Linked DNA regions of Homo sapiens. The protein of the gene in region 3 purifies or fractionates together with the protein of the main gene of each other region. This does not show direct contact. Each region holds a gene or a part of one and is shown on either strand. Other genes may lie near its edges.

The links.
Region 1: the proteins of PRKAR2A (region 3) and POC5 purify together in Homo sapiens (co-immunoprecipitation; one large-scale study listed by IntAct). This does not show direct contact.
Region 2: the proteins of PRKAR2A (region 3) and LRPPRC fractionate together in Homo sapiens (co-fractionation; one large-scale study listed by BioGRID). This does not show direct contact.
Region 4: the proteins of PRKAR2A (region 3) and GNS fractionate together in Homo sapiens (co-fractionation; one large-scale study listed by BioGRID). This does not show direct contact.
Region 5: the proteins of PRKAR2A (region 3) and ARFGEF1 fractionate together in Homo sapiens (co-fractionation; one large-scale study listed by BioGRID). This does not show direct contact.
Region 6: the proteins of PRKAR2A (region 3) and METTL6 purify together in Homo sapiens (pull-down; one large-scale study listed by IntAct). This does not show direct contact.
Region 7: the proteins of PRKAR2A (region 3) and PLCH1 fractionate together in Homo sapiens (co-fractionation; one large-scale study listed by BioGRID). This does not show direct contact.

What each region holds. Positions count from the first base shown.
Region 1 is NC_000005.10:75,673,004-75,676,807, reverse strand, and holds the end of POC5 (centrosomal protein POC5), read left to right. Parts: intron 1-2,229; coding exon 2,230-2,373; 3' UTR 2,374-2,684; downstream 2,685-3,804. UniProt on the Homo sapiens protein: Essential for the assembly of the distal half of centrioles, required for centriole elongation. Acts as a negative regulator of centriole elongation.
Region 2 is NC_000002.12:43,975,325-43,979,493, reverse strand, and holds part of LRPPRC (leucine-rich PPR motif-containing protein, mitochondrial precursor), read left to right. Parts: intron 1-2,217; coding exon 2,218-2,339; intron 2,340-2,441; coding exon 2,442-2,500; intron 2,501-3,264; coding exon 3,265-3,351; intron 3,352-4,169. UniProt on the Homo sapiens protein: May play a role in RNA metabolism in both nuclei and mitochondria. In the nucleus binds to HNRPA1-associated poly(A) mRNAs and is part of nmRNP complexes at late stages of mRNA maturation which are possibly associated with nuclear mRNA export.
Region 3 is NC_000003.12:48,767,654-48,772,050, reverse strand, and holds part of PRKAR2A (cAMP-dependent protein kinase type II-alpha regulatory subunit), read left to right. Parts: intron 1-4,397. UniProt on the Homo sapiens protein: Regulatory subunit of the cAMP-dependent protein kinases involved in cAMP signaling in cells. Type II regulatory chains mediate membrane association by binding to anchoring proteins, including the MAP2 kinase.
Region 4 is NC_000012.12:64,735,189-64,739,585, reverse strand, and holds part of GNS (N-acetylglucosamine-6-sulfatase precursor), read left to right. Parts: intron 1-86; coding exon 87-205; intron 206-2,478; coding exon 2,479-2,582; intron 2,583-4,397. UniProt on the Homo sapiens protein: Hydrolyzes 6-sulfate groups in N-acetyl-d-glucosaminide units of heparin sulfate and keratan sulfate.
Region 5 is NC_000008.11:67,224,886-67,229,282, reverse strand, and holds part of ARFGEF1 (brefeldin A-inhibited guanine nucleotide-exchange protein 1), read left to right. Parts: intron 1-1,018; coding exon 1,019-1,059; intron 1,060-1,150; coding exon 1,151-1,320; intron 1,321-1,684; coding exon 1,685-1,836; intron 1,837-1,973; coding exon 1,974-2,146; intron 2,147-3,099; coding exon 3,100-3,260; intron 3,261-4,249; coding exon 4,250-4,380; exon of another isoform or gene 4,381-4,397. UniProt on the Homo sapiens protein: Promotes guanine-nucleotide exchange on ARF1 and ARF3. Promotes the activation of ARF1/ARF3 through replacement of GDP with GTP. Involved in vesicular trafficking.
Region 6 is NC_000003.12:15,413,793-15,418,189, reverse strand, and holds part of METTL6 (tRNA N(3)-cytidine methyltransferase METTL6), read left to right. Parts: intron 1-2,247; coding exon 2,248-2,418; intron 2,419-2,532; coding exon of another isoform or gene 2,533-2,556; exon of another isoform or gene 2,557-2,571; intron 2,572-2,606; coding exon of another isoform or gene 2,607-2,692; intron 2,693-3,275; coding exon of another isoform or gene 3,276-3,381; exon of another isoform or gene 3,382-4,027; coding exon 4,028-4,169; exon of another isoform or gene 4,170-4,244; coding exon of another isoform or gene 4,245-4,383; exon of another isoform or gene 4,384-4,397. UniProt on the Homo sapiens protein: S-adenosyl-L-methionine-dependent methyltransferase that mediates N(3)-methylcytidine modification of residue 32 of the tRNA anticodon loop of tRNA(Ser), including tRNA(Ser)(UGA) and tRNA(Ser)(GCU).
Region 7 is NC_000003.12:155,738,232-155,742,628, reverse strand, and holds part of PLCH1 (1-phosphatidylinositol 4,5-bisphosphate phosphodiesterase eta-1), read left to right. Parts: intron 1-4,397. UniProt on the Homo sapiens protein: The production of the second messenger molecules diacylglycerol (DAG) and inositol 1,4,5-trisphosphate (IP3) is mediated by calcium-activated phosphatidylinositol-specific phospholipase C enzymes.

The DNA.
Region 1 (3,804 bases), on a different chromosome or scaffold from region 3:
GTCTCCCAGGCTAGATAGAGTGCAATGGCGCAATGTTGGCGCACTGCAATCTCCGCCCCCTGGGTTCAAACAATTCTCCTGCCTCAGCCTCCCGAGTAGCTGGGATTACAGGCACCCGCCACCACCCCCAGCTGATTTCAGGGACTGATTTTAAAAGAGAATGCCCTCTATAAATTCTCAGCATCGGACAACGTTCCTGTGTACTTTCTAAGTATTAGCAAAAAAAAAGTATATGGAATGATTTTAAATCCTTTTTTCCCGAGTACTAGCTGGGCACTAGATGATTAAATGAAGACAAGCTGGATTGATTTGAACTGAACTTCAGGTGAAGTGGGACCTTAGCGAGGTGGAAGGCTGGAGATAGAAGCACCAAGTCCAGATAGAGACATGGAGATGACAGAGGATTTATTTTAGAATTATCTTAGGTTTCATGTTTCATAAGTTGGACAGACTCTGAAAGTTCGTAGAAGACTTTTCTATATATTTTTGAATATGGAAGACAAGTTATCAAAAATGAGAAGAAATAAACCCACTTCTGTTTTTTCAGATGTAGAAAATGTATAGAGATGGTGAGAGACTGTCCATTTGTGAGGTAAAGAAGGTGTAAAGAGAGCACATGTGTGTTTATTTTTTATTAGACAAGCTTTTGTTTTGTAGTAATGATGGGAATTCATATTTTACAGAAGAAAAATCAAAGTACTAAACATTTAGAACCCTTGTTTCTGATACTTATCTCCCATGCTGCCCTCCCTTTATTCAGTATGTGCATTTCTTACCCACTAACTGTGTATGAACCAGATAGCCATCAGCTGCCTGGATTATGTGACAGACACAGTGGCAGTCATTTGTACTGTATTTCTTTTCACCCTGGGAATCAAGATCTAAATCTACCAGAAATAGTTATTACTAAAAAACCAAGGATGCGATTTGTGACACTGTAGCCTCATCTGCTGGGTAACTGCATGCTTCTAGGGCCACTTCATTCTCTGTCATATTTTGTGTATCATAATTTCAGTGGCTACTTTATTTCTACAGTTCCTCTTGCCCATCCTCCTCAAGGAGAAAGCCTTTTTGGCAGGCTCAGGTTAGTGGCTGGCAACTAATTAGGTGACTGGCAACTAAAATTTCTTATCTGTTGCAAGAGTATCTCCTATTTATAATGGTTATCCAGTTGTTTATGTACAAATAAACGTTTTTATAAGATACTTTAAGAAAAGAAGTTATTTTTCTTTAAAAAGGAGTTCTGTTCTTTTTAAAATGGAATCTGACAGGATCTTTTGTTTTTAAGAAGTTTCATTCTTTTTTTAAGCAAAAACTACAGCTTGGAGTTTTTTAAATACATAGTGAATGTTTTGACCAAATACATGTAATTTTACTTAAACTATTTTAACAATGACTTTTCTAAGTGGAAGACCCTAATAGAAATTGACATGTCCTAGTCAGTGATATGGACTGAGAACTTGATAACAAATCCCACTGCTGGCTACTAAGAAGCTTTATCGGGTTTAATAGGGAAAAGCCTTGTACTGATACATATTGTTCATGTTTACATGTAAATGTGTACTTGTATACATAGTGTGTACTTACATGCATTACATGCATATTATGTGTGTCAAGTAAGTCACGTGTGTCCTGACTTTAATGACTCAGTGCTCATGTCTGAGGTGTTCCTTTGAGCTCTGAGGTGATGTGCATAAAAGTTTTAGTCTGCTCCCAGGTGAACCAGGTTAAATATGAGGGCTCTGGTTTAAAGCAAGGACCAGACTGCATCCTGAGGGCTTCCGTGTGCCCCTGGGATTGTGAGATAATCACATCCACATACTAACAGTCAAGTAGAGAGAAGGAAGTTGGATGGAATGAGGGGAGGACTCAGGGCTGACCCCTCTTCCAGACACCACAGAGTTTCTCTCTGTATACAAAGCCTCTGTACACATTACAAGATTCCACTTGGCCCTGTTGGAGGAATGGCTGCCGTGGCTTTCTTAATGAGCCTTGTGGATATAGCTCTGATATTACACTGTGGGTGTTGAACATGTCAGTCAGACTGGGTAGGGGTTCCTTACAGACAAAGGCCTCATCTAATTAACAGCTGCTTCACTCCACTCATTGCTTCTTTCTACTGGATCTTAACAAATGTTTATTGGGTTAAATTATAGATGATAGATGATGAAATGATACATAGTATACATAATCTTGGGATATTATTAAAGCAGAATTTTGTCTTTTCAGCAAACCATTCCTCAAGCAACTGCAGCAAAATATCCCCGGACCATTCATCCTGAAAGTAGTACCTCAGCTTCCAGATCACTTGGAACCAGATCAGCTCACACCCAGTCTCTCACAAGTGTTCATTCCATAAAAGTGGTTGACTAAAGTGAATATGTCCATAGTGGGGTCTTTTAATCCCTCTGGTCTTACCAAGGGTTAGAAGTCTTTTGGTTTTAACTTTTCCATATTGTTAGAACATCATGGAGACATCATGTTCATCTGTTCAAAATTACAAGAGGCTTTTTCAAGCTCTACCATGCTTTGTAACTATATGTAGAAATTATTTTAATGTTATTTTTTATTTAAGCAATTAAGTAAAACTTTTTTAAATTAAAAAAGAAACTGGACTTTATTTCTTTAATATGTTTAGCCTGTTGCTGATTACAGCATCAAAATATATAAATTTATTTTCACTATTTATAAAACACTAAATCATTTCCAATATTACACAGCTGTAATTCACTCAAAGTGTTGAGAGGGAACCTTACTAAAAACAAAGTATTAGAACTAGTGGAAACTAGGATATTTTTATTTTTAATTTAAAAAAGACCAAGTGTAATAATGATTTTTTTTTTTTTTTTTTTTGAGACAGAGTCTCGCTCTGTCACCCAGGTTGGAATGCAATGGTGTGACCTCGGCTCACTGCCTCCTCCTCCCATGTTCAAGCAATTCTCCTGCCCCAGCCTCCCGAGTATCTGGGATTACAAGTGCCAGCCACCATGCCCGGCTAATTTTTGTATCTTTTTTTAGTAGAGACAAGGTTTCATCATGTTGGCCAGGCTGGTCCCGAATTCCTGACCTCAAGTGATCCGCCCGCCTGAGCCTCCCAAAGTGCTGGGATTACAGGCATGAGCCACCACGCGCGGCCCCGTTTTTTGTGGCTTTAACATGTTAGTCTTCATTTTTCCAGGACTCTAACAACAGTTGAAAATAGACGGAAACGGCAACACCTATGAATCATTTTTTAATGCCAAAAGGGAAAACATTTGTAATACTAGCACTAGAGTTACAGAAGTATCAGAAATTTCCTGTTAGAATGAGCCTGTTTCTGGTGTTCTTTCTCGCCTTATTATTTGAAACTCTGCAGCACTGAACCTACCTTGTTCTCCCCGAACATCTAAACACTGTTCTGTGGTGGCGTAGCCCTGAGCAACTCAGCAAACCTAGGCCTGGGCAGAAATTTTTCAATGGCTGGCCAATACAAAGAAACCATCTGGGCAGAACTGATTTAGGTGAACAAGACTTGGCTTCTAATGGTTTCATTGCTGACTGATTGTGTGGGCCAGACAATTAAATGAATCTCTGGATCCTCATCTGTGAAATAAGAATAAAATCTACCTACTATTTCACAGTACTTATACATAAAAATGAACAGGTTCTAAAGAGTTTGTCCAGGACCTCAATTTCCATCTCTTTTAACAGAGTGGATGGAGTTAATCATCTGAAGCCTCTTCTAATTTGAATATAAGTTCTCTGCACTAATTTTTATTATAGGAAATAGGTTTTCTTGCTGCCTCACATTGTTCACAGGACATC
Region 2 (4,169 bases), on a different chromosome or scaffold from region 3:
GCAAAAGGATATTCTTCATTGTAGCTTGTTTGTAATAGTAAGAAATTGGAACCAATTCAAATATTCTTCTCTAGGGGATTAGGTAAATAAATTATGGAGTACCCGTAAAATAGATTACTGTGTAACTGTTTTAAGAAATGAAGAAGCTCTTTATATGCCAATGGGGGTGTTCTCCAGAGTATAAATAAAAATTAAGGTGTAGACCAGTATGTATAGAATGATACCATTTTGAAGAAAAGTGTTTTTACACGTGCATGTGTATACAATATTAAAATATTTCTAGAAGGATGATGAACACTGGATACAGGTTTTACTTGACCTTTTTATACCTTTTCAGTTTTATGTCATGTAACATAGTACGTATTCAAAAAATAATTTGAAAAAAGATGGTTTAATACAATTTAATGTTCATTCCTGATTTAAAAAAATCTTAAAGTATAGAAAGATGCTTCTTTAATGTGTTAAAAATCTAAAACCGACAACAATCATGTATAATGCAATGAAATAAGATGTGAAACAATACAAGAAGTTATTATTTTTAGATGATGTGATTGTTTAATCTGCAAAATCCCAGAAAATCAGCTCACAGTAATTAGCTGGACTCACTAAATGTTTAAGAATCCATACCTCTTCTAGTTATAAAAGAAAATAGAGAAAAGAATCCAAGAAAGTATAGCTACAGATAAATAAAATATTTAGGACTATCCTTCAAAAAGTGAGTAGGACCTATGTGAAAAAAACTACAGGATAAAGACAGATTCTTCCTTCACAGTTTTGAATACATCTAGAATACATTTTGATAAGTTGATTTTTTTTTAAGTTAAAAACTATATAGATAAATGTTGACTTTCAGAATGGAAAAGGATTTTATAAGTATAAAAGGAGCAGAAAAGTAAAGCTAAAATATTGAATCTCTAAAAATTAGAAATTTCTGTATGTCAGTAAGTCATTGAACTGGGAGAAATATATGCAGAAAAGGTTACATTCTAAAATAGAAAAAAGCATTACACAGCAGTAATAACATTAATTCCTCCATATAAAGATTAACAATGTGTTATTATATTAACATTCTTTACAGATAGGTCTCTCCTGTATAAGTGTCTGCTTTATAAGGATGGAATCCATGGCTTCTTTATTTTCCTGTTTGACAGTAGCATGATGCTTTGTGTATAATGGCATTTGATACATACTTGTTGAATTAATATTGCCAGAAACCTTGTAGTTTGCCAGTTTGACTCTTGTTTACAGATTTATAAAGATACAAGAGATCTTTTAGCTTAAGTAACTTGTCCAAAATTACAGAATGAGCTGTTGACAGATCTGAGCTATCTGTAAGATGGGGCTGATAATAGTGTCTCAAAGTTGTTGTGAAGTTTGAGTGAGCCACTATATGTGGAACACTTAGCATAGTGCCTGAAACATAGTATGAAAGAAACATATCTGTTAAGATAAAAATGTGTATTAATTTAATGGAACAGCTCTCTGCTGCCTAAAATCACATACTCTCACCCCCAGATACTAACCATAGGCCTGTATGGTCACAGGCAGTTGAATAAAGATGTGAAATTTAATGCATGAAAATGTAGTGAGACATGTTACCACAAAATTGATATAAAGACCATGATGTCATGACTCAGTAGAGTAAGGCTGTGTGGTAACCTTATTTGATGTGGCCCTAAACAGTAGGGATACAAAGAAAACAAAGGTCATTAGAATACAGATAATTAACAAGAGCATACCATAGATCATGTTCATCAGCTGAAAATGGAATGCATCCTTAAAATGAAGGCTTTGAGTGACAGAATTGCCAGCACAGTCCTACTGTGTGAAAGAACTGAAGTTACAATCCATTCTTCACAGTGTGTCTGTAATGTGAGGACTGCTTTATATAGAAAAATCTTACAGTCACTTTTAAATATAGGGATATTGTCAGCGTTTTCTAACAGGAAGATAATTTTGTGCTTCATAAGTAAGAGGCCTTTTAATATCCGAATAGGCAGTTACTTGTAACTATACAGTAACTCAGTAATTACTGTCTTACATGCTTAGCTTGCTCTGTGTGACAGAGTATCTGTGTAGATAGGTCTGAGCGCCAAGATGGATGGGTGAAATGCTAAAGTGATAGTTTTACTCTTTTTGTTTGTTAAATTTAGGTCCACTTTAAAGCATAGGATTTTCAATGCTTTTCTAAAAATTCATTTTAAATTTCATTTGTAGGTGCTGTGTATGATGTGAGTCACTATAATGCTTTACTTAAAGTCTATCTTCAAAATGAATATAAATTCTCACCAACTGATTTCCTGGCAAAAATGGAGGAAGCAAACATTCAACCAAATCGAGTAAGTAGTTGCTATTGTGAATATATTTTCACATCCACCATTTTTTTTCTTTACTCAGAAAAAAAAGTATATTTAAAATTAACTGGCCCATTTCATTGACAGGTGACATACCAGAGATTGATTGCTTCTTATTGTAATGTAGGAGATATTGAAGGTGCCAGGTATGGATCTGTATGAACATGTTTAAGCGAACAAATTTGTACATTTTGTAAATCTAATGTCTGTTCACTCTTTGTTTTAAAGCTTCTTCCTAATGGAGGAAATTGTTTCAGAACTGTTTTAATCTAGAAAATCTGGTAATCTGACTTACATAAAATATAAAATTATCGTGTAAGAGAGAAAAGATAAGTAAAAGTTGCTATTTTAATTAAAAATTTGATTTACTGGAGAGAGGTATAAAGTTGTTGAGCTATAAAGCTGACTTTGCTTTTTTTTTTTTTTTTTTAAATATTTCCTAAGGGAAATGTTCTTAACCATTTAAGCTGTATTCATTTATAAAACTGGAAGTAGTGTAGAAAATCAGTTGCACCATTTCTCTGCTTATGTAAAATTTATTACTACTTATGAATGGAAGGTTTGGAAAATAAGGGATAAATTGGAATACATAATTTCATTTTTATCTAAAAGAATCTTATGAAACTATGCTTTTAAAAGGGTAATTAGTAGTGTAAGACAAATCAGATAATCAGATTTTTAAAAATCTAGTATTTGTATCGATAGTACTTCAAGACTGTTGATACATTAGAGAGTGGGGTTTTGTGGGAAGGGGATCAAAGGGATTAGTTCTTTCTTTGTGGTTTCTAAAACAAATGTATATTACTATTATATTTTAAAAACAAAAGTAACTCAAGGCCTAATTCTGTACATGTTGTAAAGAGTGTTCTTATAAATACTTTCAATGAGTATCTTCGTTTTTCCTTTGCAGCAAGATTCTTGGATTTATGAAAACTAAGGATCTCCCAGTTACAGAGGCAGTATTCAGTGCCCTTGTGACAGGGCATGCCAGAGCTGGGTAATGTTCAACCTAAGGTTTTGGTTCTTAAGTGATAGATGGCTGAGATGCTAAAGTGGTCATTTTACTCCTTTTTTGTTTGTTAAGTGGGGTTTAAATTAGAGAAAATTATTGTAGACAGTTCTTAAAATACATTTGTCTATCCCTTCAAAAAAAAATCTGTAGTATATGAGGTAGAGCATACTAATATTTTTATAATGAGCTTTTACATTTGTTCCACAAATCTTTCTTTTATTTGAATTTTTAGAAATTGGGCTTGAAGCCGGGCGTGGTGGCTCATGCCTGTAATCCCAGCACTTTGGGAGGCTGAGGTGGGCAGATCACCTGAGGTCAGGAGTTCAAGACCAGCTTGGCCAACATGGTGAAACCCGGTCTCTACAAAAATATAAAAATTTAGCCGGGCATGATGGCAGGTGCCTGTAATCCCAGCTACTTGGGAGTCTGAGGCAGGAGCGTTGCTTGAACCCGGGAGGCAGAGGTTGCAGTGAGCCGAGATTACACCATTGCACTCCAGCCTGGGAGACAGAGCAAGACTCCATCTCAAAAAAAAAAAAGAAAAAAGAAACTGGGCTTGATCTGATCTGAAGTAACTGCTCTGGAAAATATTTTTATTTTTGAAGAGTAATTTACTAAATGTTATTCTTACCTCGAAAGTTAAGTCTGAGTCATAACCTACATAATATTAAGAGGGTATGTTATTTAATGTCTATGTAATTATTATTATTTTTTAATGGGGGATCAGATGTTTATGATCTTTATTATTTCAGAAACATATATCCAGTTTAATATACATTAGTTCTTTTCTGACATCATAATTC
Region 3 (4,397 bases):
GTGAGTTCCCAGGTTCCCATATATCCCAGATGGGGTGCTGGAAAGCCTGAAATCCAGATCTTCTAACAGGTATATTCAACAAAAGCAAAACTCCATCTCAAAAACAAAACAAAACAAAAGAACGAACAGCTAAACAGAAAATCAGCTAGTGTCAGCTAGGATATAGAAGAACTTAACACCATTAATTAACAAAAGCTATCTGAAATTTATAGAACACTGCACACAGCAACAACAGAATGAACATTTTTTTCAAGCCCATGGAACATTCACCCAAATAGGCCATATCCTGGAATATAAAATAAAACTTAAAAAATGTAAAAGATTTGAAATCAGGCCAACCACAGTGGCTCAAGCCTGTTATCCCAGCACTTTGGGAGGTTGAGGTGGGAGGATTGAGTCCAGGAATTTGAGACCTACCTGGGCAGCATAGTGAGACCACATCTCTATTTAAAATTTTAAGAAATAATGAAAATTTAAAGAAAAAATGAAATCAGAATGTGTTCTCTAACTACAATTGAAAGAAAGAAACTAAAAATCAATAACAGATCTCCAGACACTTAGAAATTAAATAACATTGTTTTTGGTGTGAGCAGGGGCTAACTGCAGCCTTGACCTCCTGAGCTCAAGCAATCCTCCCACCTCAGCCTCCCAAGTAGCTGGGACTACAGGTGTGCACCACCACACCTGTCTTTTTGTTGTTGTTGTTGTTGAGACAGAGTCTCACTATGTTGCTCAGGCTGGTCTTGAACTTCTGGGCTCAAGCAGTCCTCCTGCCTTGGCCTCCCAAAGTGCTGGAATTACAGGCATGAGCCACTGTGCCCAGCCAAATAACACATTCTTTCTTTTTTTTCTTTTTTGAGATGATCTTGGCTCACTGCAACCTCTGCCTCCTGGGTTCAAGCGATTCTCCTACCTCGGCCTCCTGAGTAGCTGGGATTACAGACGTGTGCACATGTGCCACCACGCCCAGCCAATTTTTGTATTTTTAGTAGAAATGGAGTTTCACCATGTTGGCCAGGCTGGTCTCGAACTCCTGACCTCAGGTGATCTGCCCACCTCGGCCTCCCAAAGTGCTGGGATTACAGGCAAGAGCCACCGCACCCGGCCAAATAACCCATTCTTGGATAATCTCTAAGACCAAGTCTCAATGAAAATTGAAAACTGTATATTGAGCTGTAAAACCACCTGCTTTGTGGCTGGGGTATGAGGATTAAATACATGGGCATAAGAGAAGTGACTCCCTTAGTGCCTGGTACAAGGTGGGTGTTCACAGAATGATGGCACAAGCTCCCCATGGCCATGGTGCTACTCACCACCCTTCTTTTCCTGAGACTTCCTTTCCTAAGACTCCTATTCTTTCTATTTCCTTGCCTTTGGCAGTCATTTCCTCTTCTCCTTGCTTTCTTAGGTCAGTGACCTATCAAGATATCCTTTTGGCCTCTACTTTTCTCCTGTTAATTGACTTGCTTTGCAAGCCCAGACTCTTCCAAAGCTTCAATACCACCTCTAGGAAAGTAACTCACAGAAGGTCCTCTCCAGCCTGACTTCTTCTTTGGCCTTGGAAATGCCTTCTGAGGTTGAAGTAGGGAGGATCTGGTGTCGTCACTGAGTTTTTCAAGTTGGATCCTACATTCCTGCTTTTATAATGGGCAGCTGCCATCACGGCCCCTATACGTAGTCTCTTTTGCTTTCTCTTGCTTTATTGAAAGTCAATAGAAGGTTTCCTGGGAAATTCCTGCAGTCACAGGAGAGAGTAGCACTCCTTTTCTCTTTTGAACTTCAGGGGTGTTTGCTTGCCTCTGACCACTTGCTGCCTGTGGGAATTTCCTCTTCACTGCTCGATTGGATGCTCATCAAAGGCTATGTTGATGTCTGGTGCTTTTTTTATATTCTCCACAGCCATGGGAACTGGCCTTGCACCACATGAAAAGAGAGTTTTGGGAAGTGTTAAAGCATGCGTAAAAAGGGGTAGAACCAGCTGGGTGTGGTGACTCATGATGTAATCCCAGTACTTTGGGAGGCCACGGTGGGCAAATCACATGAGCCTAGGAATTCAAGACCAGCATGGGCAACGTGGTGAAACCCTGTCTCTATGAAAAATAAGAAATTAGCTGATGTGGCGGCACATGCCTGTAGTCCCAGCTACTTGGGACGCTGAGTTGGGAGGATCACCTGGGCCTAAGAGGTCAAGGCTGCAGTGAGCTGTGATCATGCCACTACACTCCAGCCTGCTGAGTGACAGAGTGAGACTCTGTCTCAAAAAAAAAAAGTCGCTTGCCGGGCGTAGTGGCTCGTGCCTGTAATCCCAGCACTTCGGAGGCCAAGGTGGGCAGATCACCTGAGGTCAGGAGTTGGAGACCAGCCTGACAAACATGGAGAAACCCTGTCTCTACTAAAAAATACAAAATTAGCTGGGCATGGTGGCGCATGCCTATAATCCTAGCTACTCTGGAAGCCAAGGCAGGAGAATCACTTGAACCTGGGAGACGGAGGTTGCGGTGAGGCAAGATTGCGCCATTGCACTCCAACCTGGTCAACAAGAACGAAACTCCATCTCAAAAAAAAAAAAAGTCGCTGTAAGAGATATTTGTTGTGGTCGGGCACAGTGGCTCACGCCTGTAATACCAGCACTTTGGGAGGCCAAGGCGGGCGGATCATGAGGTCAGGAGATTGAGACCATCCTGGCTAACACGGTGAAACCCCGTCTCTACTAAAAATACAAAAAATTAGCCGGGCGCGGTGGCAGGCGCCTGTAGCCCCAGCTACTCAGGAGGCTGAAGCAGGAGAATGGCGTGAACCAGGGAGGCGGAGCTTGCAGTGAGCCGAGATTGTGCCACTGCACTCCAGCCTGGGTGGCAGAGCGAGACTCTGTCTCAAAAAAGAAAAAAAAAAAGAAAGATATTTGTTGTTTTCTCTTTAGTTAGAAATCTGTTGTTGTTGTTGTTGTTTTTGAGATGGACTCTTGCTCTGTCATCCAGGCTGGAGTCCAGTGGCATTATCTCGGCTCACTGCAACCTCCGCCTCCAGGATTCAAGCAATTCTCCTGCCTCAGCCTCCTGCATAGCTGGGATTATAGGCATGTGCCAACAGTACTGGCTAATTTTTTATATTTTTGGTAGAGATGGGAATTCACCATGTTGGCTAGGCTGGTTTCGAACTCCTGACCTCAAGTGATCCACCCACCTCAGCCTCCCAAAGTGCTGGGATTACAGGCGTGAGCCATGCGCCCAGCCGAAATATTGTTTGCTATTGCAATTGTACTAATCTTTGTTACACTGTAGGTGGATTTGTAAAATATTGGGAGTTAACTTTGCTGCCCTCTGTGTATTTTTTAATATTTATTTATTTATTTATTTTGAGACGGAGTCTCTGTTGCCCAGGCTGGAGTATAGTGGTGTGATCTCGGCTCACTGCATCCTCTGCCTCCAGGGTTCAAGTAATTCTCATGCCTCAGCCTCCCAAGTAGCTGGGACTATAGGTGTACACCACCATGCCCAGCTAATTTTTGTATTTGTAGTAGACACGAGATTTCACCATGTTGGCCAGGCTGGTCTCGAACTCCTGACCTCAAGTGATCCACCCACTTTGGCCTCCCAAAATGCTGGGATTATAGGTGTGAGCCACTGTGCCAGGCCTTTTATTTTATCTATCTATGTATCTATGTATGTGTGTGTGTGTGTCTGTCTGTCTGTCTCTCTGTCTGTCTATATCTATCTATCTATCTATCTATCTATCTATCTATCTATCTATCTATCTTTTGAGACGGTCTCACTCTGTTGGCCAGGCTGGAGTGCAGTGGTGCTCTCACACCTCACTGCAACTTCGCCTCCCAGGGCTCAAGCAATCCTCCCACCTCTGCCTCCCCAGTAACTGGGACCACAAGTGCACGCCACCACGCCTGGCTAATTTTTGTATTTTTTGTACAGATGGGTTTCGCCATGTTGCCCAGGCTGTTCTCAAACTTCTGGGCTCAAACAATCCACCCACCTCCCCACCTCAGCCTCCCAAAGTGCTGGGAATACAGTCGTGAGCCACTGTTCCCAGCCTGTATGGGTTTTTTTTAAATAAATAAATAAAATATTGGGGTTTTCTGTTTTTGTGGGGTTTTTTTGTTTGTTTTTTTTTTTGAGATGGAGTCTCGCTCTGTCTCCCAGGCTAGAGTGCAGTGGTGTGATCTTGGCTCACTGCAACCTCCACCTCCCAGGTTCAAGCGATTCTCCTGTCTCAGCCTCCCTAGTAGCTGGGACTGCAGGCGCGTGCCGCCATGCCCAGCTAATTTTTTGTATTTTTAGTAGAGACGGGGTTTCATTGTGTTAGCCAGGATGGTCTCGATCTCCTGACCTTGTGATCCACCCGCCTCAGCCTCCCAAAGTGCTGGGATTATAGGTGTGAGCCAC
Region 4 (4,397 bases), on a different chromosome or scaffold from region 3:
TTTTTGGTTTTTTTTTTTTTTGGCAAGATAGTGATACCTCAGCCATTGCCCCTGAAGTCCCATTTCTACCTTCTGTTCACATCCAGGTGGCAAACTCTCCTCTCAGTTGATGACCTTGTGGAGAAACTGGTCAAGAGGCTGGAGTTCACTGGGGAGCTCAACAACACTTACATCTTCTATACCTCAGACAATGGCTATCACACAGGTCAGAGGCAGGAGTAGGTACTGCTGTGATCTTTGAGAATATGTCTTTCCTTTTTCACCCAATGAGCCCTGGGAGGGAGTTCTAGTCTTTTTATAACTGTGGACATGCCAGAGGGAGGATCTTGCCCTCAGGACCCCTCCAGTTGGAGCACCACATCATACCCACGTGGAGAAACCAGGTTTCATTATTTGCTGTTTCACATGCAAGATGACATGGTGTTCTAGGAGTGGGAGCAGAGCATGAGCTTGATGGGTTGGAGGCAGGCCGTATGGAAGGCATTTGAGATAGGAAGACCAAAAGGAGGTTGTCTTGGGAAAACTTTCTTGCCATTCATGGAATTTGTTTTTTGGGTGTTTTTGTTTTTTTCAAAAGCTGCAGGATGAGTCAGCTCTGTGTCCTTGACTTTCATGCTTTCTGCTTGGACCTTCTGTTGTTAAAAGCAAATGTTTTCTTCTTTCCACATATATAAATGTCCACTTGAATGGGATTCACTTGAGACTTGCTTGCATAGGAGGAGATCGCTTAGGCATTTAATGCATTATTGTGATTTTTTTGGGGGGCTGGTGGGGGGACAGAATCTCGCTCTGTCACCCAGGCTGGAGTACAGTAGCGTGATCTCGGCTCACAGCAATCTCTGCCTCCCAGATTCAAGCAATTCTCCTGCCTCAACCTCTCGAGTAGCTGGGACTACAGGCACACGCCACCACGCCTGGCCAATTTTTGTATTTTTAGTAGAGATGGGTTTTTGCCATGTTGGCCAGACTGGTCTTGAACTCCTGACCTCAGGTAATCTGCCTACCTCAGCCTCCCTAAGTGCTAGGAGTACAGACGTGAGCCACACGCCTGGCCTGTGAATATTTTTAAACACTCAAAGTAGAGAATAGTAAAATAACCTCCATTATCCAGCTTAGATTTTCAGCTGCATGAGGCCAGTCTTTTGAATTCTTCCTACTCTCCCTGTGTTTTTCTTTTGTTACTAGAAGGTTTTGAAGCAACTCCCATACACATGACTCCAGGATTCAACACCGGATTATGCATCTGACTCTGGTTATTATGTATCAAGATGCAGACCACCAGCCTCAGTGGCTCACACCTATAATCCCAGCACTTTGGGAGGCCAAGGCAGGTGGATCACCTGAGGCCAGGAGTTCCAGATCAGCCTGGCCAACATGGCATAACTCTTTCTCTACTAAAAATACAAAAATTAGCCAGGTGTGGTGGCACATGCCTGTAGTCTCAGCTACTCGGGAGGCTGAGGCAGGAGAATCTCTTGAACCCAGGAGGCAGAGGTTGCAGTAAGCCAAGATCGTGCCACTGCACTCCAGTGTGGGTGACAGAGCGAGACTCCATCTCAAAAAAAAAAAAAAAGATGCAGGCAAAGTCCACATACTACCTTTAGTTCTTGTATCTCCTAACTCTGTCATTTGCCACGAATTTACAGGGAGAAGTGGGTCTTTGTCCATCAGAATGTCTCACATTTTGAATTTGGCTAACTGCTGTCTTATAGTGCCTTAACTTGTTCATCTCTAGTTAGCATTTCCTATAGATTGGTAGTTAGATTAGGGACTTGATAGAAGTTTGCATTTTCAGGTGACAGTGCATCCTCACCTGCTGCTGTGTACTTCCTGTTGCATCATGTCATGAGGCCCGTGGCATCTGGCTGCACTGTTTTTGGAGTGCTGGTGTTGATTGATGAGTCAGGTGGTTTCAGCCTTAGCTCTTCCTATGAGCTTTTCTGTTGTTCCATTGATGATTGCTGCCTAAATTCATTATTCCCTCAGAAACTGCAAAATATTGATTTTGTAATCCTGTCCTTTCTTTTGTATTTATTAGCTGAAATTCCTCAGAGAAGAACTTCCCCTTATCAGTTATTTGGTTATTTTGAGATGCAGTTTATTCAGGAAACACAGGATAGGTGTTTTTGTTCATTTGACAGTTTTTGGAGTAAACTTCATTCAGTTGTGATGAGGCTGAGTAGCATGCATAATTTTTTATGTATTTGTGTTTCAATACTTTCCTGTCATTATTTTTGCTTATTTTGTTCTATCATAAGCCAGGGAGTCCCTTCTAGTCATTTGTTTAGAGAAGATGAATTTGTTGTTTTCCTGCCTTGTAGTAACAAGAGACCCAGGCAAATTTCAGCTTTCTATTAAAACACCAGAATCAGTAGAACAAAGTTGTTTTAGTTTTGGCTGTGGATTAAATGAGTGAAACATAACATGAGCAAGGCTCCTGTCTTGGCTCCATCTTTACATTGTGTGTTTTGTTTTCAGGACAGTTTTCCTTGCCAATAGACAAGAGACAGCTGTATGAGTTTGATATCAAAGTTCCACTGTTGGTTCGAGGACCTGGGATCAAACCAAATCAGACAAGCAAGGTAGGTGCCTGACAAGCTGGTGCTGTGGACAGGTAGGCACTTGCCTGAGAAAATAAGGTGTTTCCTCCTGAGATAAGATTGGTTAGGTTCCTCTTCCCACTAGGGCTGAGCAGCAGAAGAGTTTTTAAGTGGAAACAATGATTGCTTTTTTTTTTCCTTAACTTCCCACTGCTCTCTGTATCTGTATTTTCACCCCACATATACATGTCTCATTAGAATGCATAGCTTTTCTTTGTCTTTTGAGACTAGATCTTTACTTTGTTCTGGAGCAGTGACTCTCAACAGAGGATGTGCATCAAAATTGCCCTCCGAAACTGAAGAAGAAAAATGGTACGTGCTTGGGCAATATCCAGAAAGAGTATGATTGACTCACTTGGTCTGGAATAGGGACCCAACATCTGCCTTTTTTCCTTTTGAAGTTTGCAGGTGATTCTGAGAGGCAGCCTGGTTTGGGGCCCACTGCCTTGTAGAGCAGAGCCCCTCAGGCTTTTCTGTGTGTGAATCCCCTGGGATCTGGTTAAAATGCAGATTCTGCTTCTCCATTTCTGATCAGCTCCCGGGTGATGTCTGCTGCTGGCCTGACCTTGCTTTGAGTATAAGGCTATCAAAAACATGTCTTCTAGGAATTAGTCTTTCCCTGTGCTGGGCTCTTCCTTATGAATGCTTTGTTGCTTTCCTGGTTCTCTCTCCTAGAACTGCCATAATATGCCACATTGTTCTGTTGTCTTTCCCATTTGGTTTCAGTGTCTTTTTCTAAACGTGGTACCTAATGCTGAGGCACTTTGTTCCTAGCAGTCATGAGGACCTTCATCCAAAATACTGTCCTCCAACACTCAGGAGAAAAGAATTGACAGCCTCCACCAGCTATGTCTTCTCTCCTTCCTGATATCACAATTTCAGTTTCAGTCCCAGTTCTGTGAGACCAAGGAAGATGAACAAATACACACTTTAAGCTAAAATTGCAAAGTGGGTTTTTAAATGGGCCAGACTTTCTGGGTATATTGGGTACTTTAGTTTAATTTTGGAGCTTGATGTTTACTTGTTTAAATGTCTATTTTTCACTTATTTCCTTTTAAAACACTCTTGATGGAATTCTGTTAAAATTCTCTTGGAAGGGTAAAATGGCCTTCATAATTACGTTTTGTGTTTTTCTCTGAAGACCCACATTCCTAAAGCTAGTCACTTTTCCCTACAAATTTCAGTGCCTTCTAAACAGGCTTCCTCTTTCAAAGGAGATAAGCAAGTTTAGAAGACCATTAAATCTTAAAAGTGTTTTCTTGAGGTTGGTGTTTGGAACTGATTGAGGAGACCATGTCAGCAGCCATGTTCTGTTTTTAGGAGCAGGGCTACCTCAGCCCACATGGGAAGGAGGCTGAATGAGATCATAGTGAAATGTGTCAGCCAGCTGCCTGTGGAAAAAACTGTTCCTTTTTTTCTTTAAGTTAACATTGCCATCTAAATGTTAAAAATCAGAAACTTCACCTTCTCTAAGCAATCTAAATGAAGTCTGGTTCCTGAGAAGCCATTTCAATAATATAGCTAACATTTATTGAGTGTTTAGTATGGGACAGGTGCTATTCTAAGTTTATTACCTGATTTAACTCATTCAATCCTCACAGTTGATGAGATAGAGGTACTGTTATCCCTATTTTGCAGATGAGGAAAACTGAAGCAGAGAAGTTGTTTGCTGAAGATCACGTAGCCAAAAAGTAGCAGAGCCCTGCATTTGAACTGGGGCAGTCTGGCTCCAAAGTCTGTATACTTAACCATTACATTATAGTTCAGTCAACAAGTATTTATTATCTTCCTTGCCAG
Region 5 (4,397 bases), on a different chromosome or scaffold from region 3:
CTGTAATCACCCTGTCCTGGTTTGAATCTTGGCTCTAGCACTTACTAGTTCTGTGACTTAGAGGAAGTTATTAAATATCTTTGTGCCTCAGTTTCTGTGTTTATAAAATTGGGGATTTAATAGTACATGCTTCATAAGGAATTTGTGATTATCAAATGAGTGAATATTGATATTACACTAGAAAAGAACCCATCTTGTGATTGGTAGCTATTACTGTTACTGCTATGACTACTGTGACCTGCTCCTGCCTTTAAAGTTTTCCTTTTTATCATGCAAATCCTATTTTGTGCATTCTAAGTTGAGGAATGTCATCCTTCTTGAAAGTGACGTCAAACTCTTGGTTGCAAACCCAGAATATGGGTTAAAATGCAGACTTTAAAAAAGGAGGACTAATGTGTTTATGCTGAAATTTTTTATGAAACTTTGAAACAAAAAAAGAGCTCAGCAAAGAAGAATGGGCAAAGCTGGGCAGTGTTAGCTTAACTCCAAACATTTGAATGCCCTAAGGAAAGTGGTTTGGCCAATTCTTGGGTAAACTGAGACTATTTGCAAGGTTATATTAAGTCACTTTTAGTGTAAATGAACTTTCTAATCAAATATACTTTACTGGTAAAAATACGTCAAATTTTTCATTTTAAGAACTTGCTTAATGCTAGACAATAATCAGGAAAGAATCTGTAGTGTGCCAATTATTAGTTTTACAAATTAATATTTTTCTTATTCTTAGAATCTCATATCTATCCGGGGTTTGTAAATCTGATAAAATTACAGCAGTATATACTTACCCTAATAATAATATTGAATGTAAACTGGTTCACATGGAGTAGAGGTGGAGGGGAGGGAGAAACATCCAGACTACACTTGTTACTAAACTAAATGATGAAAAATACTCATTTGAATACCCAATTTTTTGTTCCCTTAAAACATAAAAATAGCTAGTACCCCATGCCACATACTTTTCAATTGGAATAAGAACAGTAACTTATAAATTTTTTAAATTGTGTTTTATTTTCCCTAGAATATTCACAGGATCTACAAGGCTAGATGGAAATGCCATTGGTAAGTATGGGCATTTATTCTACTTCGGAACTGGCTTGGGGCTAAAATAACTTTAATGTTGAGCTAAAAAAAAAATGTATTTATATTACAGTGGATTTTGTCCGTTGGCTCTGTGCTGTGTCTATGGATGAATTACTTTCCACGACACACCCAAGAATGTTTAGTCTACAAAAAATAGTAGAAATATCATATTACAACATGGGAAGAATAAGATTACAGTGGTCTCGAATTTGGGAAGTTATTGGAGATCATTTTAATAAGGTATTTGAATAACTATGGTGTTTGTTTACATTTGTAGTATATTTTTTGTTTAGAATGTCCTTGTAATCAAATTGAGCCTTTTTCCCTTCCAAGCAATTATTTATTACTTTTTAATATTAAATTAGAAAACCCTGTGAATGGTGTTTTTCTTTTTAGAAATGATTGCTCTGGGCTTTAAGAATTTGATTTAAAATATCTGTTTTTCTTGTTGAGAAATAGTTTTAGCATACTTAATGCCTTTATGGAAAATCTTAGGATTTACCTATCTATGCTATTCTATACTTTTTCTAAAACAAAAAATAAAGAATTGTAGATTTTTACTGCTGATATTAATTAGCATCGTTTATTTCTGTCGCCATTACAGGTTGGGTGTAATCCTAATGAAGATGTAGCTATTTTTGCAGTAGACTCCTTGAGGCAGTTGTCAATGAAGTTCTTAGAGAAAGGGGAGCTTGCTAACTTCAGATTCCAGAAGGATTTCTTAAGACCTTTTGAACATATAATGAAACGGAACAGGTACTATATTTGTTGAATTGCTTAATAGAAGGAAAATCTTGTTGTTTTCCACAGCAGGGAGAAAAACAGAAGAAAGGGGGAAAAACTGATGAGTTTTATCGGTTTGCATATCCAAGCAATTATATTAATATTTTTAGGTCTCCAACAATTCGAGATATGGTTGTACGGTGTATAGCACAGATGGTTAATTCTCAAGCTGCTAACATTCGATCTGGATGGAAGAACATTTTCTCTGTATTTCATCTAGCTGCATCTGATCAAGATGAAAGCATAGTGGAACTTGCATTCCAAACAACCGGGCACATTGTCAGTGAGTATTCTCTTAGCTGTGTTCAAGTAAAAGGAAAAAAAAAAAGCAACCTTAACGTGTTCAGAAGATGATTCAAGTAACAATAAGATTATGGCCTTTAAGTTTACCAAGCTTTGTCTACAGAACCAGAGTAAATAAAAACAATTAAATTACTATTATAGTTAACATTTATTGAGTATTTACCATATGGCAAATACTGTGTGCACTTTTCACGTAATTTCTTTAATCTTCACAGTTAAACATTATTGTCCATCCCTTTTTTCAAAATAGATTAGGAAACTCAGCCCCAGAAAGGTTAAGCAGTCTATGTAAGGTCACAGAACTAGTGATGGAGATGGTCTTGAGACCCATGGAGTATTAAAGCAAAGCCTTTATTTTTGACCAGTAAGTACATTGCACAGCCTTCTTCAAGGAGGAGTCCCCTTAAGTTCAAGGGGGACTGACTGAAATACTAAGATTATAAGTTAAGCCTATATGGAAGATGACAATGATGACCATCAACATCAAGAATCATGGCATCATCATAGCTATCATTTATTGCGTGCTTGCTTAAGTATTACACTAAGCACTTCACTTATATTATTTTACGTAGTGCTTACAGCTATCTGTGTATATTATTATTATTTCCATTTTATATCAAGAAACCGAGATACAGAGAGGTTAAGTAATTTTGTATATTCATTCAACCAAAGTTGAATCAGTACCTACCGTGTACCAGTCACTGTATTAGGTGCTATGTTTATAATGTAAACAAAACAGACAAGTTTTACTATTCTCACCACTCAGGGCAGTCAGTTAAGTGGTAAAGATAGTCTTGAACTTCGTATCTGTTGGATGTCAGAACCTGTAACAACCTTTAAGAGGAAGTGCATTACATCTAGATGTTGGTGTATTTTTGGTACAGCTAAGAATAATTGAAAAATTATAGTAATATATATTTTTCTCTATTTTAGCCCTTGTATTTGAAAAACACTTTCCAGCGACCATTGATTCTTTCCAGGATGCAGTGAAGTGTTTGTCTGAATTTGCGTGCAATGCAGCTTTCCCAGACACAAGTATGGAAGCAATTCGACTTATTCGCCATTGTGCAAAATATGTGTCTGATAGACCTCAGGTATAGCGTCATTTAGTAAACAAAATTTTGCAGAGTATTCTTTCCAATTTGAAATCTTAAGTTTGTTTGGGAATTGAGGGTATATGAAGCATTTATTTTTCAGTAATTTGAAAAATAATCTGAGCAGCCTGATTCCAAGTTAGGATGGTTAGTGATTATAACTAACCATTATTGAAAGTGTCAGGTATTTTTCTGAGTGTTTTTCATTAACTTGTATTAACTTGTTTAATCTTCTAATGGCTTTATGGGGTAGATAGTGTTATAGCCCCATACAGACAAAGAAACTGAGGCACAGAGAAATTTTAAAATGTGCCCATAGTTTCAGGGCTAGTAAAGTAGAACTAGGGTTTGAGCCCCAGCCTGTGTTTCTAACCATTCCCTACAGTGCATCTTGTCTGTCTGTGCTGTGTAATACTGAAGCTGACTGACTATGGATGAGAATAGGCTTAAGCTCTAAAGTAAAAGGTTGAATTGAAAATCTAGCTGCCATATTTAACTTGTATATTTGAATCTATCTTTGTAACTGTCATAAGAGAAAGTGATGTATCGTAGATTTGGTAATAAGATTTTATTCCGTACTACCATGGACCGATCAGGTGCTTGGTACTTTTTAGATACGTCAACTCATTTCACCTTCATACTTCACCAGTGTGGTTAATGTGGCTGTCTGGTATCATAACCATTTAAGTGATAAAAATGGAAACCTGAATTAACCTGGCTAATAATGCAGAAAGCTGGTGACAGTTGAAAGTGAAGCTAACTTTTGGATTCTAGTCCAGAGCTCTTTATAGGCAGTTATGTTTTGCCTATTTCAGTGGCACATATACTAAAATTGTAGGCAGTTATAGTGTCCATTTTTTATAAATTATTTTTTATTAAATTGCTCACTGGTTATTTGTGAAGCATTTAAATTATTTTTTGAGAAGTTAGTATACTGAATGTATGGGTGTTATGTTTTGCCTTTAATAACCCTACCTTTTTTCTTGAAGGCTTTCAAGGAATACACAAGCGATGATATGAACGTAGCACCTGAAGACAGGGTGTGGGTGAGAGGATGGTTCCCAATTCTCTTTGAGTTATCCTGTATCATCAATAGATGCAAATTAGATGTAAGAACCAGGTAACAATCTATATTTG
Region 6 (4,397 bases), about 33 Mb from region 3:
CACTATGTTTTTTGCCTTCTGGGATGTTTTCTACTTTTTGGTTAAAGCTAGACATATTATAAGGGCCAGTAGATACTGAGGGATAGGGATTTGTAACAATCTAGTCAGGAATTGGGCTGTTGTTTGAAGTCTGTTGTTGCTGTCTGTGAGGTTTGTTGTTGCTGTGGGCACCAGAGACTTCAAACCCCTCTAGCAACTTGTTTTTGTCTCCTCTCTTGGATTTGGGTCTTCCCTTTGTACCGTTTCCCAAAGAGTCTATCTGTTGTGGCTCTCCCAGCTGCAATTTCCTGTTATTCTTGGAGATTCGATGGTGGGGTGTGGGAGAGGGGGTCGTTCTCTAATGTTCTGCTTCTCCAAATTTGAACTGGTACCGTGGGCCTGTGTCTCAAGGGTAGTCATTTGTCTCAAGGGTAGCCAGTTCTTCTAAACACAGTAAATTGAATGAGAAATTTTTTCCTCACTCATAATTGTCATCTTTATTATCTACCTTTTTGTCTAATTGTCACCTTTGTCTATCTTTTATCATATAATATACAAAATTCCTGTTTATATATACAGTATATACAGGTCTGTTTTGGGACTCTGTTTTGTCTCAGTGATACATTTGTCTCCATTCTCAAACCATGTTGTTTTATTACTACGTTTTGTAATATATTTTGATATCCAGTAGTGTATCTTCTCCTTTATTATTCTTCATTCTATTTTATTTATTTATTTATTTATTTATTTATTTATTTTTGAGACAGAGTCTCTATCATGCAGGCTGGCGTGCAGTGGCATGATCTCGGCTCACTACAACCTCCGCCTCCCAGGTTCAAGCGATTCTTCTGCCTCAGTCTTCCCAGTAACTGGGACTACAGGTGCGGGTCACCACGCCCAGCTAATTTTTGTATTTTTAGTAGAGATGGGGTTTCACCATATTGGCCAGGCTGGTCTCAAACTCCTGACCTCATGATCCACCTGCCTTGGCCTCCCAAAGTGCTGGGATTACAGGCGTGAGCCACCGCACCTGGCCTATTTTTTTAAAGATGAGATCTTGCTCTGTTTTCCAGGCTAGCTTGCAGTGGCATGGATCATAGCTCACTGCAGCTTTGAACTCAAGCGATCCTTTCACTTCAGTCTCCCAGGTTGCTGGGATTACAGGCATGAGCCACCATACCTACCTCATTGTTCATCATTTTAAAAATTGACTTGGCTATTCTTAAAGATTTTTACTTTATGATGAATTAGATTCACCCTGTCTAGTTTCTAGAAATCTGTTGGGAATCAGTTTAGATTGCATTGGATTTACAAATGGAATTATGAATAGAATTGACATCTTTTTAATTTTGCATTTAATTTTCCCATCCAGTAACTTTGTATATCTATTTATTCAGGTCCTCATTTACATGAAATAGAAGTTTAATGTTTTTCTTCATAATACTCCTATACATGTGTTGAAGCCTACCAACCAAAATGTACCAGGAACACATTTGTAGTCAAAAAAAGGTTAAGTTTATTTAGCTTGCTGCATAAAGAGAAAATATACCCCAGAAGAACTGCGGGAGCATCTCATCAAGGGGAATTAGAAGGGCTTCTCATAGGGTTTAGGCTTTAAGCAGATGATTCAAAGGAGGATTAAGGAAGCCAGAGGCCAGCAGGACATAGTGGCTCATGCCTGTAATCCCAGCACTTTGGAAGGCTGAAGTGGGAGGATCACTTGAGGCCAGGAGTTCAAGACTAGCCTGTACAACATAGCAAGATCCCATCTTTACAAAAATAAAAATAAAAATTTAGCCAGATGCAGTGGTGCACACCTGTAGTTCCAGCTACTTAGGAGGCTGAAGTGGGAGGATAACTTGGGCTCAGGAGGTGAAGGCTGCAGTGAACCATGATCATGCCACTGCACTCTAGCCCAGCAGACAGAGTGAGACCCTGTCTCTTTAAAAAACAAAAAGAAGCAGAGGCCAGTTTTGGATCATCATCCCTCTGGAAATAATATGCTTCTAAAATGCTCAGTTTTGAGTACGTGATACTCTTATTGTCTCCTCAGTTAAAAATGATTTATTAAAATGAAGTCTTGCTCCTGTAGCAGTAGTGAATATTACATGCTTTATAGTGAGTGATTTATTAATCAGTTTTATCTGGTAACAGTGATAATTTCTATGTATACAAGTGGAAATTGGATCGCCTTTTGATGTTGTATTTTTCTATATGTATCAGCCTAGTGGTTGCATTAAAATTCATTTGTATTTCTTCCCCCTGTAGCAAAATCCTTTATATGATACAGAAAGATGCAAGGTATTCCAGTGTGATCTGACTAAAGATGATCTTCTGGATCATGTACCGCCAGAGTCTGTGGATGTTGTTATGTTGATATTTGTGCTGTCAGCTGTTCATCCTGATAAGATGCACCTTGTCTTACAAAACATTTACAAGGTTAGTGATTTGGGGCCTGCACTTGAGGGTTGGACAGTCTGGATTCTTTTACTTACCTTCCCTCATGAGGCTCATGTACTGTCTAGATTCACATAGTCTCTCCATTCTCACTAGGTAGGCTGTGTAGTGAGTGTATAGAAAGGGGTCCTCTGGCATAAAACATCCACCCTAAATTCTGATTTGTGCAGTGCCATGGCTGCTCTTCAGAGCTTCGCCAGCCCTGGGACAAGGATGATTTTGCAGTTACCTGGGATCCATGGAGTCCTGCTATAAGGTGAGAGGAGTTATGGTTTAGTGGTCAAGAGTACACAGTTTGGCCAGGTGTGGTGTTTCATGCCTGTAATCCCAACACTTTGGGATGCCAAGGCAGGTGAATCACTTGAGGTCAGGAGTTTGAAACCAGCCTGGCCAACATAGCAAGACCTTGTCTAAAAAAAGCTAATGTATGATCATTGGCAGATCACTTAACCCTGTTGAGTATTGGTTTCCGTGTCTCATGTGAGAATAATAATCACATTCCTTTGTCCCACAGTTGGGTGAAGATACAATGAGAAAATGTATGGTTAAGCAGTCAAATGCTAGGCATGTATCAGTCATTAGCACCGTGATTGAGCTATACATTGTGGCACAATGAAATGAGAGCTGAGGCTCAGAATGAGGAAAACCAACCTGAATCAGTAAAGAGCCAAAACGACATTCTGGTTTTTTGTTTGTTTGTTTGTTTGTTTTTTTAAGAGACAGTTGAATACAGTTTGAGTACTAGGAGATGGTGAATAAAATGTTGCAAGAAAGTGCTTCAATGAGGATAACACTTTCATTTATTGTCTCTAACACTTATTTATTTATTTTTGAGACAGGGTCTTGCTGTGTCACTCAGGCTGGAGTGCAGTGGCATGGACGTGGCTCACTGCAGCCTCAACTTCCTGGGCTCAAGCAGTTCTCCCACCTCAGCCTCTGAAGTAGTTGGGACTACAGGACGCACTACCAGATCCAGCTAATTTTTAATTTTTGTGTAGAGATGGGGTCTCACTATATTGCCCAGGTTGGTCTCTAACATTTTAATCCTGTGACACTGGACATTCCAGGGTGCTCTTGGAGGTACTCAAGAATTGTCTTCAGGGACGAGCGAGGTGGCTCACGCCTGTAATCCCAACTTTGGGAGACTGAGGTGGGCAAATTACTTGAGGTCAGGAGTTCGAGACTAGCCTGGCCAACATGGTGAAACCTCATCTCTACTAAAATACAAAAATTAGCCGGGCATGGTGGCGGGCACCTATAATCCCAGCTACTCGGGAGGCTGAGACACGAGAATCACTTGAACGTGGGAGACGGAGGTTGCAGTGAGCTGAGATTATGCCACTGCACTCCAGCCTGGGCGACAGAGCAAGACTCCATCTCAAAAAAAAAAAAAAAAGAAGTGTCTTAGTGTTATGGAGCCCTGCCTGGTCTTACTATCTTTTTAAGTAGTAGGCCATTTTGGTTCCGTATTATGGGCATTTCAGTCTGTCCCCTTAGTAACTATCACAAATTTATTTTAAGTCCTAACTTAATCAGGTTTTATTTTGACAGGGTTCTCCAAAGTCATGTTCAGCCTGCTTTTGTTTCATAGGTATTAAAACCAGGCAAAAGTGTCTTGTTTCGTGACTACGGACTGTATGATCATGCCATGCTTAGGTTTAAAGCCAGCAGCAAACTTGGAGAAAACTTTTATGTTAGACAAGATGGGACCAGATCATATTTTTTTACTGATGGTAAGATGAATGGAATCCAGTCTTTAAATGTTTTATTCTTTGTTTCTGTTTATTTGATTGCATTATCACTGCAAGGCTGCTTGGAGAAGGCTTGCGACATGTGCACGAGACCCTGAAACAAGCCCTCTACTGCACAATATTTACCCAGCACCTGGAAGGCACAGACCTGGCCCCTGCCCTTGAAGAGCTCACAAGCCTTCTCTGGTGTCAGTGACTCCCCTAATGAGC
Region 7 (4,397 bases), about 110 Mb from region 3:
GGTGGCTTGTAACTGGCTCCAATTCCCTAATTCTCAGTGACATGTGTTTCTGCTGGTTCCAGGAGGTAAACTGCAGTTTTAACAGATCATGGGATAATGAGACTGGGAGTACCTGGGGGAGGCTGGGGAGAGGCAATGGGAAGGAGACAAAGAGAGGGAAGGTTGATGGGCAGAGCGAGGATTTATAGTGGCACCAGATTTGCAATAAAATCTGTTTAAAGTTATTGCTTCCGTTTGATATATTTTCCCACATCATCAACTTCAATTAAATTTATTTTAAAAATCAGTCTTTCAGATATAGGGCTAGTATTATAAACATAGAATATGATAAAAGTGCTCCTTGTTAGGGTGCCATAATGTAAAATACTGTGAAAATTCTTAACGAAATGTTTTTTACTTAATTTATTCACTTAGTCAACAAATGTTTATTGAGAACGTATTATATATAAGGCAAGATGAATAAATCCAGATTTCTGTTCTGAATGAACTAAGAGCTGTGAGTCCTGAAATAATTCTAATACCACTTCAGACGTTCAGAGTGAAGATACTACCTTTGGTACTCTTAAGGAGAACGATTGATTTGGTGCTAATCACTCAGACTTGCAGATTCAGAAACAAATGCTGAAACTGAGTAATTTAGATAAGGCTGTACATCTAGGATAGGAAGCATTATGTGCACCTATTTGCTTACATTTTTGAAGTACAAACTCTACTCTAAAACTTGTAGTCTTGGCAAGTGCAGCACAGAGTTTAGAAGAAACAGAAACCTTGTAATTCTCAGGTTTCTTAGATGAAGATAAGGTGAGTGATTCAGTAATCCTTTGTTCTGGCTCTGTGTTTCATGACATAATGAACCTTCTGCAGCTTCCTTCTAAGAATGTTGGTCTGCATGCCTGAAGGATCATAACTATTTTTTCCCTGAACAAAAAAAAAAAAAAAAAAAAGAGGATATAAAATTATGATAAAAGGATAAAAGGAATACAATAGAGTATTTAAACATTTAACTTTTGAGATGGAATAATTTCTAGACATTTTTAGTGAATTTAAACTCTTGAAATCCATTACAGCCATGACAAAATCCTGGCATAATGTTGACCAGGGTTGACAAACATCTCCTCTTGTCATTCCTAGGACATAGACGGTTAGGGAAACTCTCATCTTTCCTTCACCACCTCATGAGTCTAAAAACAATGATAAACCCAGGGAAGCTTGCTGAAGAGCATCCTCCATTTGGTTATTGCTCTTTGTCTAGGAAAATCAGACTCAGCTGTGAATTGTGGACCAAGTGGTGCAGAACTCATTACTTTGAACAATGCCTCCTCGGCCTGGGAAGCATGTTCTCTCTTCTCACTAGCAGGGGCTTATTCCAGGCTGGCTTTGGTCACAAGGAAAATCATTTAGACACAGTTCAGTGGACACTCACTCACATCTCTTTGACACCCGTGACCATTTTTGTTTAAGGAGAAATCCAGTACTGCTGTGGTAGGGTGTGCCAAATTAGAAGTGCATTTTAAGAAGCCTGTGAAGAAGTTTACACAGCTTTATTTTATTATCATCAAGATCTCTGTCTTCTGTGCTTCGTAGTGGAAGAGGGCAGGATAGATGCAGAAGGGACAACCAAGATAACGTGGATAGCTAAGTTTAAAATGTTCTTACCAGCTATGTATTTTGGTGGCACTAACCTAAGTGCCTATGCCTTATTATAGTCATTAAATTACAGAGCAGAAAAAGATAAATCTACCATATGTATCGTATAAATCTGGAAGCCAGGGCCCAAAGTTGCTAAATGATTTTCTTAAAAGTCACACAGCTAATAAATGGCAGAATGGGGATGACAACGCAGAGTTACTGATTTCTAATGATCTTGTTGTTTTCAGGAAATCTAGGGAGGGCAGACAGATATTGAATCCTTGCTTTATTTTTTAAATACGATTTTTAATTTTAGACATGAGGTCTCACTATGTTGCTCAGGGTAGTTTTGAACTCCTGGGCTCAAGTGATCCTCCCTCCTCGGCCTCTCAAGGTGCTGGGATTACAGTTATGAACCACTGCTCCTGGCCTCGAATCCTTGCCCTAGATTTGCTATTTCCAACTATATGAAACTGCTATAGTTGTAAATATAAGGTGGTCAAACATCAGCAATGTCATATGATTTAACCTAATATTGTTGGGTAGAATTAACAGTGGTTACCTTCTTCTTCTTCTTTTTTTTTTTTTTTTTTGAGACAGAGTCTCTCTCTATCACCCAGGCTAGAGTGCAGTAGATCTTGGCTCACTGCAACCTCTACCTCCTGGGTTCAAGTGATTCTCCTGCCTCAGCCTCCTGAGTAACTGGGATTACAGGCGCCCGCCATCATGCCCGGCTAATTTTTGTATTTTTAGTAGAGATGGGGTTTTGCCATGTTGGCCAGACTGGTCTCGAACTCCTGACCTCAGATGATCCGCCTGCCTTGGCCTCCCAAAGTGCTGGGATTACAGGCCTGAGTCATCGCACCTAGCCAACAGTGGTTACCTTCTGACAATATCTTTTTATAAGCATGTGTGTATCATGAGAACACATATGGTACACACGCTATGTCTAAGTACAAAAAAGCTGTTTTTCATTTGGTATCTATTTTGGTCTGAGGAATTTTGGCATGATTGGGATTTACCATAAGGGGGGATAGTTTTTCTGGTTATTTATTGTTCTGTAAATATTTTAAAGGATTCTGGAAGAAAAGGAGGAAGTGAACATTAATGTATTCCTAACGTGATGGCACTTATTTTATGTCTTTTTATAATACACAATAATCAAGAGAGGCAGGAATTCTTATCCTATGTTACTGATGAGGTTCAGAGAGGTTAGTTTCTTGCCTAAGATGTAACATGGGACAGACGAACGTGGAACAGACTTGGAATTTGAACCCACGTCTGTCTGCCTCCATGTTCTGTTACATCCTATTACTACTCAGGAATGCAGTGGTAATAGGCGGGAAATTTGTGACAAACGCTGGGTTACTTTTATTTTCAAATTCACCATTTATGCAAAGTATAGACAGGTAGAGAGTTTCTGATAAGCTGTCTGGAGAGTAAAGAAACTGCATTCCCTACATGGAGTTTAGGAGGTTGTAAATTCAGGTCTGGTTCCAGAAAACATTCACGACTTTGTTTATAAACGATGTGGGCTATGTTTTTGGAAGTGGTGTTTAGGTTATGTGCTGTAGAGATTTTTCCACATCGACTTGCTCACTTACCACTTCTGGATTGTTGCCATCTTGTGGTGGGTCTAAGAGGATTCCTCATGATTTTAATGTGTGCTTTCTGACATCCTAAGATTTAGATGTTGGTTTTATCTAAATGTTGCCCGATTATTTTTCTTGAGGTAGTATTGATAGATTTACTGCTAGAATGGACCGGGTAGTGTTTTGCAATGTTTTTCAAACTGGAGATGAGAATTGCCTTGGACAGTTGCTGAAAATGTCTTAAGTTATTCCAGAAGCTGGAGTTTTGGTGCTCCTAAAACTGCTGTGGTACTGGGAAGTTGCAACTGGCTTGTACTGAGCTGGTTTTAGATTTGCAGTATTTTTGAGCTGGTTTCAGCATAAAGAAACTGGGCTCAGGAATGTCATCGTTCACACAGCCAATTGGTGGCTGAGTTGCGATGGATACCTAAGACACCTAAGTCTAGCATGCTTTTATTTTTGTATATTTTTTTGAGACAGGGTCTCCCTCTGTCACTGGCACGATCTTGGTTCACTGCAGCCTCCACCTCCAGGGCTCAAGAGGTCCTTGCCCCTCAGCCTCCTGAGTAGCTGGGACTACGGGCGTGTGCCACCATGTTATGCTATTTTTTTTTTTTTTTGGAGGTGGAGTCTCGCTCTGTTGTCCAGGCTGGAGTGCAGTGGGGGGATCTCGGCTCACTGCAACCTCCGCCTCCCGGTTTCAAGCGATTCTCCTGCCTCAACCTCCCTAGTAGCTGGCATTATAGGCACCCGCCAGCACGCCCAACTAATTTTTTTTTTGTATTTTTAGTAGAGACAGGGTTTCACCGTGTTAGCCAGGCTGGTCTTGATCTCCTGACCTCGTGACCCGCCTGCCTCGGCCTCCCGCAGTGCTGGAATTACAGGCGTGAGCCACTGCGCCCCGCCCCGCTAATTTTTAAAAGAAATTTTGTAGAGACAGGGTCTCACTATATTTCCAGGCTGGTCTCGAACTCCTGTGCTCAAGCAATCCTCCGACCTCTACCTCCCAAAGTGTTGAGATTACAGGCACGAGCCACTACTCCCGGCAGTCCAGCATTCTTAATAGCGCACCACACCTTAAAAAGCACACCCTTCTTCTGGGTCTTCTTTCTTCCCTAGTACCTGACTCCAGGCTAGAAGAAAATGCTAAGGGTTTCAAAAAAAGTGGGTGCTGGA